Regions from separate parts of the Homo sapiens genome. Here region 2 is linked to region 1. The links come from fine-mapping of genetic effects on gene expression. A gene starts in region 1. The other region holds a variant in brackets. All regions are shown on one strand. Distances are between the middles of the regions.

Region 1 (4,395 bases):
TACTCAGAAAGTCCAAGAGAAAAACACTCGCTGGGCATATGTAGGCCTCTTTCTTTAGAAAACTCAGCAAGACTCATGTATTGAATGAATTAATAACCTTGGTTTCAACCATTTGTATATATGTGGACTGTAGGTGTGCAGATGTGTGTAACTGCCTACATGTGCACTTAGTATTATGCATATATGTATATTTACATATAAATATAATGATGCATTTACATAAAGGCATCCATTTGGCATACATACCTATGCATATGCAGTATAAGGCTGGATTATTCCCCTGCCACACACAAAGATTTTGCTGTCCAAAGACTCAGTGCAATGAATGGCATGGAAGGGGCTCTATTTTCAAGGGTGAAGCAATAGAGAAATACCGAAGGCCTCGGATAACCTGTGATGGGGATCCCACGAAAGCCACCGGGGACAGTGCCAGTAAGCTTATCACTCCTGCCATAGACAGCGGACTTCAAAGAAAAACTGAAACCCTTTCTCCGGAAATAATCAGGAAGGATCTTATTTTCTTCTTTGAGGTCAGCACATTTTGCTTTTCAAAATCAAATCCACAGCAGTTCATTAGTAATGTCCCACAGGTACTGCCTCAAGTTGGCAGCTGTGGAAGCTAAAGAAGCATAAGACCTGATTCTTGACCTCGGACAATTTACAGTTTAGCTGTGGAGGTAAGACAGGGACACAGAATATTATGTGGCAATTGAAAGTGTAAATATTATAGATTTAAGTAGGGTAAAGAGCTCATTCTGTAGTAGAGGGGTCAGTGAAAAGTAATTGTTCACCTGGTAATAAGAGAAGATCTCTGTGAACAAAGTCTAAGACTGCAAACTTAGGACTGTTGGGAGATAGTCAGATAGATTCATATATAGATACAAATCTTTACCATCCTCAGACATCCGCCAACTTGGTTGTTTAGGTTGTAGGGCTTACATGAGGAAGGGTGTATAATAGATAACTCTAAAAATGTTTGAGCCTTAGACCCAGTGAGTGAGAAAGAGTGTCATCATTTAATATTCTCCTGACATTCACCTGCCCCTTCTGCATCTGTGGCTGTGACTGAGGACTTGGTTCTTTATATCACCCAGTGTTCATGAGGATTCTCTGGAGAAATTTCTTGCTGGTCTCAGTATCAAGAAAGGGGGATCTTCTCTTGAGCAATTTTGTTTTTGGTCTTGCATGTGATAGGAATTGAACTTTAGACAAGGCCTCTCTTTAAACTTGACTGCTAGAAATGCAGGAGACAAATTTTGGTCCCACCTGTAGCAAGGGTATTTGACTCTATGAGATGCATTTATTTCAAATGATGTTCATTTTTGGCTCCATCTTGTGTGCCTCATTTTTCATTTCACACACTTCTTTTTGTAGGTTATGTGCTCTTGTAAGCTATCTCGAATTCTGTTTTAAGGACAAGGTAGCATATAAATATAAGGAAATATATAAATGAAACAGAGGAAGGCTTTAAAGTCCAGAACACTATGGCCAGGAAGACAACTATGACTGTGGCTAGAGTTATGGTCTGTGGCCGTGATAATGAGTGTGTTATTAGGGCAGTCCAGCAGTGATTACAGGGAGTCAGACAGACCTCAGTCCAAGTCAGAGGTCTCTCTGCTGTTTATTAGTTGTATGATCTAAGGCATAGCATTCTCTAAACCTTCATTTTCTCATCTTTACAACAGTGATCTCTTTGTATCAGGGAGAGTGGATTAAATGAGGTAATGTATAGAAAGCACTTAGCACAACCGCACTCAATCATTAGCTATTGAGATTATCAGCACTATCACCTGGACAAGCAGCGGATGGGCCGCCCCTCTTGGCCAGGTCTTCTGTGCGCACTGACGTTGTATGAAAGTTGTCCCCACATCTCCTACACCCACCGACGCCAGGCGGCCGCGTCTGGGCCAGATATGGATCACGCCTGTGGAGCGCACCTCCACACAGGCAGCCCTCGTCCAAGGTGCAGGGCGCAGGGCACAGGGCACATGTCTACGGCCCAGTCCTGCAGACGGCTACCTAGAGACCCCAGGGCACAGGTTAAGGCAACTTCACAACTGTCTTTCCGTTCCTTTCCCCTGCCGGACTCCGCGCTCTGATATATACAGGAGAGGCCCTGGAGGGGAGAAGGCGTCCTCACTGCAGTGCTCCGAGCAGCGGCCGCAGGAAGAGGCGTGGAAGCTGCGGGTCGGCTGCGGGAAAGGGGGTCCCATGGGAGCCGCTAGGCGCAGCCCGTTTCCCGAGCTGAGGTGGAGGTCGACGGGCACAGGTGCCCTGCAAGGCGCGGGCGTGGTAGCCGGGAGCCCGCTCCTCTCCAACTCCCCTGAGACTTAACCCTTTGGCCAAGAGAGGTCGAAGGCGGGCAGGGGTGAGAGAACCGCGCGAGGCGCAGGCCGGGGCACCCGCGGAAAGGGGGCAGGTTTCGGGGAAGAGCGGCGGGGCGCCGCACGTTTCCTGCAGCCGCCAGCATCAGCGTGTCAGGTGGTTGCCAGGCGGGTGTGAGCGCGCGCGCGAGGCAGAGGGGGCGCGCTCGCACAAAGTTTGTGCCTGCGGTGCACCTCGGTCGGGCTCGCCGGGCTCGAGGGCTGGCGGGCGCCGGGGCTACGAGGCCCGGGGGGGAGAGAGCCGGCAGGCGGCGGCGGTGGTGGCGGGGGCGATGCGCCGCGCCCGGCCGCGCTAGGTGAGCCGGCACCGGGAGCGCGGGCCGCGGCCATGGGCACCCTGGGCAAGGCGAGAGAGGCTCCGCGGTGAGTAGAGGCGGCCGTGGCCCTCGGGAGCGCCTGTGTCCTTTCTTGGGAAAGAGGCCCCTGCCCGTCGCCCCAACACCCCGAGGGAAGTTGAGGGCGGAGGGGGGCCGGGGTCGGCCGGAGTCCCGGGACACCAGCGCGACGGGCGGACGTGTCCAGAACGCCCGGCGCGCTGCGCCCGGGGTTTCGGGGAGGGAGCTGGGGCTGAGGGGTGGTAGAGGGGCGGCCGCGAGGCCAGAGCTCGTCCGGTGAGATCTGCTAGGGCCGAAGCTCTTCGCGGAGCCGGCGCCCGCCCGCCGACTTCCTCCCCCACATCTCCACGCCCGGCATCGGGACTCCCACTCGCGGACTTTCCGCGCTGCCCGCACCTGCTGGGGCGCTGGGCTCCGGCTGCGCCACCTGGTGGCCCCTCCCGGCCCTGCCCAGAACGGCCGAGGAGCTTGCAGGGAGCCCGCAGAGGTGGCACCCCTCGGTTGCCCCTGCCCCACGGAAGTTTCCAGATCCGTGGGTCAGGGAAACATATCGCCTTCCGTATGGGAAGCTGCACTCCTCTCCCCCTCACTATGATTCTATAGAGGGTCTTGGATAACAGAAGTTGAAGAAAGAGGGACAGTGAGTGAAAGGGCTCTTGGCCAGGCAGCTTTGAGTTTGTAGCCAAAGGACCAGAACTAGGCAACTGCATGAACAAAGGCCTGGCCTCGGCGTAGGGGCTGGACAAGTTGTGCACTTCACAACTCCATTCACATCGACACTGATGGGACTGTGCCTTGCACCACCATACCCAGTAGCGGCAGGAAGCTTGCGATGCTGGACTTCCCGTGCTTATAATCCCAGGAACGAAGGATTCTTGGCCCTGTATGCACGCCCTGCCTCTCCCCATCCAGGTATCCCCTGAGGGTCCACCACTGTACTTTGCACTAGATTCAGAAGGAGGAGTTCAGTACATTAAATTGAGTATTGTAAGGGGAAGAGGACGGGACTGGAAGGAATCCATACTAGAAGTCAAGAGAGTCACCTTCCACTGCAAAGAAAGTTGTGGAAGTTCCAGTTCCCTTGCTCCATTTCATCTCTTACTTTTCTAGGCGGATTTCATAAAAAGCTCAGCCTGAAACTGACCTCCACTGAGATACCTATGCCTGGAGAGGATTTCACCTAAACCAGTTTAGAGTTTTGACGGTCTCCTTCAGCAAACCTATGGGGCTTTGGTTACTTTTAGGCTTGGAAAACACCTTCAAGTTAATTTGTTTCTCTCGGGGTTTTGGTTTTTTCATTTACAGGAAAACATTTGGCTACTGTATTTTTTTAAAAAATATGCCTTTACAGACTCAGAGGCCATTCATTCTATGGATTGTTAAAACACCTTCGACCTGCCTATAATAGAGCATTTTATAAATCCTTGTCTACTCCCATTTCACCAGAAAAGGCAGAACGATTTGAGGATTTTTCACAAGGCAACCAGTTAAGAGACTGTACAGCAAGAAAGCCAGGTTTCCTAGTCTATGGTGCAGATAATCCCCATCTTCTTAGAACTCTGAGGCTGCACTTTGGCTTTTAGTACTTTCTCTTCTCCCTGTTCTCTCATGGCCTAGTCCTCTGAGTCTCTCTGGGCTCCATACTTCCCAGATTGCTTTTGTCACCCTTTCTTCCC
Region 2 (4,395 bases), 81 kb before region 1:
AGAGGCAATTCATTCTCTATACAGAAAGGAAATACGTGTTCACACAGGCCGACACACGCAACCTGGGCTTTGCCCAACACAGACCAGTGATCATCCCTTGTACATTTGCAAGTTGCCTCTTACGCAAAGTTCATCCAGGTACTTTACAAGTTCCTTGTCGGGAGGAACTTTATTTATGTTTTGCACCCTTCATAAATTCTTAGGACATTGTTACATACTCAATAAACATTAGTGGCTGCTTACTTACTAAGTAGGTTTGCTTGGAGTTTAGCTATTAAGAAGCCCTATTTCAGCTGTCATGCCCATTGCAGGCAGTAGCAACAATTACAGAAGCCAAGGAAACTATTCAAAATAAATATTTCCTATGCTTTAGCACCCATTATCCCTCCTCCTTGCAACTCCCCACTGCTGGTAACAAATGAGTCTTTCCCCATCTCAGGAAAACCTGTGGAACCTGGAGAGGGCAGTGAAGAGCTAAATGAGTAATTCTGAAAGAAATTACACAACCTACCTGGAGTATAAGAGATCTACCACAGAATTTTAAATGCTGACTCTTTTTTATTGGATGCTTGTTTAATTTGAGATATTAAATATTCTGCTTGAGAAATGTGTTTTGTAATCACTTTTTATCTTTGGCTATAAATGATATTCCTCTTGTTCTTGATAATGATATCTAATTTAGTAATTTAATTTTCATTCCACCAGACAGGCGTTCCCACACACAATTGAAGTATGCATTTAGAAAGAAACCTAAGACTGAGCAGGTTGGCTCATACCTGTAATTCCAGAACTTTGGGAGGCCAAAGCAAGAGCATCACTTAAAGCCCGGATTTCAAGACCAGCCTGGGAAACATAGTGAGACCCCCGTCTCTACAAAAATATTTTAAAATTACCTAGGCATAACAGTGGTGCACACCTGTAGTCCTAGCTACTCAGGAGGCTGAGGTGGGAGGATCACTTGAGCCTGGGAGTTAGTGATTACAGTGAGCTATGATTAATCAGTGCCACTGCACTCCAGCCTGGGGAACAGAGCAAGATCCTGTCTCTAAAAAGAAAAAGAAACATAATATAGATGCCTTCCTTGGATCCAATTAATATTTACTGAGTGCTCCCTAGATGCCTGACACTTTCACAAACACTATTTTATTTAATATTCTCCCAGACTAGTTTAGTTTTTTCAGCAAACATTTATTAAGCACCTATAGGTGCCAGCATCATACCAGATGCTGGGGATACGTATCAGTCGGGATGGACTTGCTAATGTTGTGGTAACAGACAGTCCCACATCATAGTGACTTAAAACCAAGAAGGATTATTTCACACTCACACTGAACATGCAGCATGGGTTGGCTGGCAATCTGTTCTTCATCTCCATCATGCCCACTCAGAGCCCTGGGTTGACAGAGCACTCACTGCTCTACATTGCTGGTCAGCCAAGGAAATAGCCAAGGGGGTGGGAAGGTCTCAGCTTCTCCGGCCCAGGGTTGGCACAAATCACACTCATACAGAACCAGCCAGATGGCCTCAGGGGGTCAGGAGGTACAATTCTACCACATGCCCAGAAGCAGAGTTCAAAATAGTCTGCAACCAGCATCAAGGACTTAAAGGATGGAAAGTTTAAATGACGTGGTTCTTGCCTTTGGTGGAGCAATCAGTCCAGTTGGGGAGACAGACACATAATTTGAAATTTTCACATCCTCAGTGCCAACAGAAGTCTGCAAAGAGGTATGGGAGCAGAGAGGGAAAGTGGTGAATCCAGATTGGATGTATGGAGGGTAGCAAAGGCCTTGAAAGCCCAAAAAAATGATATTCACAGAGTCAGATGTAGACTCTGCTCATTCAGCTCTGTTCAGAGCGAGAGAATCTCAGCAAACGGAATTTGAGACTTTCAATCATATTGCCAAGGCCAATCCCATTATGAGATAACTGCCTCAGGGGTTATCAGAGCCTGATGCTATTGAACATGCTATTGTTTAAACAATTCCTCTTAGGCTAATTCTGGTGCTCTCTAAGCAAACATCTCCATAGGGATCCTCTTCCAATGTAATGTGAGTCTGCGAATGTACCTATCACTGAGGAATATTTAGGTCCAAAAAAAGTTTTATTTCTCACTTAACTGATGTGCTGACAAATCAAAAATTTGAGCCTGAAAGATTCAGCTCCTTTGTGGAATCACCAAGACAATGTCATGCTGTGAAACCTTATAAGAAAAAAAACAATTACAGGCTCCTTCCCTGGTCAATAGATATGCTCTCTGTATTGCACAGTGGACATGAGACCTAATTCATCTATGAATTTATTTTTTGTTCAATTTTTGAAATATGAGATATTTCAAATACACAAAAGGACCAAAATTATATAACAACATTCCATACACCAACCACCAGATTTGACCTTTTGTTGTTGTTGTTTTGTAGAGACAGGGTTTTGCTATGTGGCCCAGGCTGGTCTCAAACTCCTGGACTCAAGCAATCCTCCCACCTCGGCTTCCCAAAGTGCTGGGATTACAGTCATGAGCCACCATGCCTGGCCCAGATTTGA[C/A]CTTTCATATTTTGAAATATTTTATTTTTTAGAAATAATTCAATGTCTAGTTAGTGTCCTTCTCCAACCCTTTCCCTCCTCTCTCTCCCCAGAGTTATGTCACTTCATACATATTTTTGTGTTTTTATAACATACAACTTATACTTTTATCACAAATAAACTACTGTGTTTTTAAACATTTGACATAAACATAATACATGCTCCTTTTGTAACTGGCTTTTTTCTTCTCAACATCAGCTTTTTCAAGATGTATTCGCATAATTACATGAAAATACAGGCCATGCATTTTAAATTGCTATAATACAGCATCTCTCAATCCTGACTACACATTAGAATTGCTTGGGGAACTTTAGAAAAAAACTGATTCCTGAGATCTACCCCAGGCCAATTCAATCCATGTGATCAATTTTGGTAACAGTTACATTTACCCTTAAAATGAATATATATTTCCTAATTCATGTGTACAGAATTTTATAAATATCCATCATACCTACCATGTTAATCATATTAGTCAAAATTCCTATGCCCTTACCTATTTTTTTGTCTTCTTAATTTATCAATTTCTAACTAATGTATACAATACGATTTCCTATTGTGGTTGTTGATTTGTCGATTTCTCCTTGAAGTTCTTCAGTTTGGGGTTTACATATTTTGAGACCATGTTGCTAGATACTTGCTCACTCAGGATTTTAATTTAAAGTTTTAATTGTAAAAGTTATTCCTATTTATTGCTATAAAATAATCATCTTCATGCATAATGTTTTCATTTTACAGTCTATTTTATTTGATATTTGTGTGAGTCCCGAGCTTTCCTTGTATTAGTATTTTCATAGTATCTCTTTTACCACTATTTTATTTTCAACTTTTTGTGATATTATACTTTTGTATTTTGAAACCATCATATCAAGGTTTTAAAGTCAGTTTTTTCTTTTTTTTTTTTTTTTTTTTTTTTTGACAGAGTCTGACTCTGTTGCCCAGGCTGGAGTACAGTGGTGCAATCTTGGATCTCAGTTCACTGCAACCTCCGCCTCCCAGGTTCAAGCATTTCTTGTGCCTCAGCTTCATGAGTAGCTGGGATTACAGACATGCGCCACCACTCCCAGCTAATTTTTGTATTTTTAGTAGAGACGAGATTTCACCATGTTGGCCAGGCTGGTCTCAAACTCCTGACCTCAGGTGATCTGCCCACCTCCCAAAGTGCTGGGATTACAGGTGTGAGCCGCCCCACCCAGCCTAAAGTCAGTTTTTCTTAAAAGAATCTGAGTCTCTGTATCTGAACTGGTGAATTTAGGCCATTTACATTTATAATGATTAGTGATATATTTATTTGGACCTATTTCTGTAATTCTGTTTTGGGCTTTCTATTTACTCTTTTCTTTTTCTTTTTTTCCCTTAAACTGTTGGATTTATCATATTTTCTATTTCCTCTTTTGCCTTGTTCTGGTTTTAAAGCAATATTTTCTATTTCTATATTTTGAGATTACCCTTAACATTCTTATATATGATTAATCAACAGAAATCTTAATTTAACCAATATTTCTAACTTCTTATAAATAATAGACTATTAAAACATTTTAAATTCAGTAAACTCCTATTCTACATGTAATAGTTTTCTTCTATTTTTAATTCCACCTTGAAATTACATCCCCAAAACTCATTATTTTGTTGATCCTATTATTGTTTTCATTTGTATCACTGCTTATCAATTTATTACTATTTCATATCATTTATTATACATTTTGGATTCCTGTACCATGCAGGCAAATAAATGTGGATATTAAGTCCATGTAAAGTATAGGTTGGTGGTTTCATTTTCTCAGGTCAGACTTTTTTTTCATCAAGAACCATATGGAA

What was found. PIP is the estimated chance that this variant, and not a neighbour inherited with it, causes the effect. A credible set is the group of variants that fine-mapping cannot tell apart.
Region 2: its variant is the best candidate, but not a certain one, in a credible set for the expression of RASGRP1 in whole blood (TOPMed, PIP 0.71).

The regions. Positions count from the first base shown.
Region 1 is chr15:38,562,946-38,567,340 of GRCh38, reverse strand. RASGRP1 (RAS guanyl releasing protein 1) reads left to right here and starts at 2,527. Exons shown (of 17, transcript NM_005739.4): 1 at 2,527-2,747. The coding sequence starts at 2,713. RefSeq lists enhancers at 1,921-2,110, 1,952-2,463 and silencers at 2,321-2,370, 2,531-2,770, 2,801-3,020, 3,031-3,230.
Region 2 is chr15:38,643,963-38,648,357 of GRCh38, reverse strand. No RefSeq gene overlaps it. Among named protein-coding and RNA genes, the nearest start is that of LINC02694, 50 kb to the left of the region's middle. The variant C/A (reference allele first, on the strand shown) is at 2,542.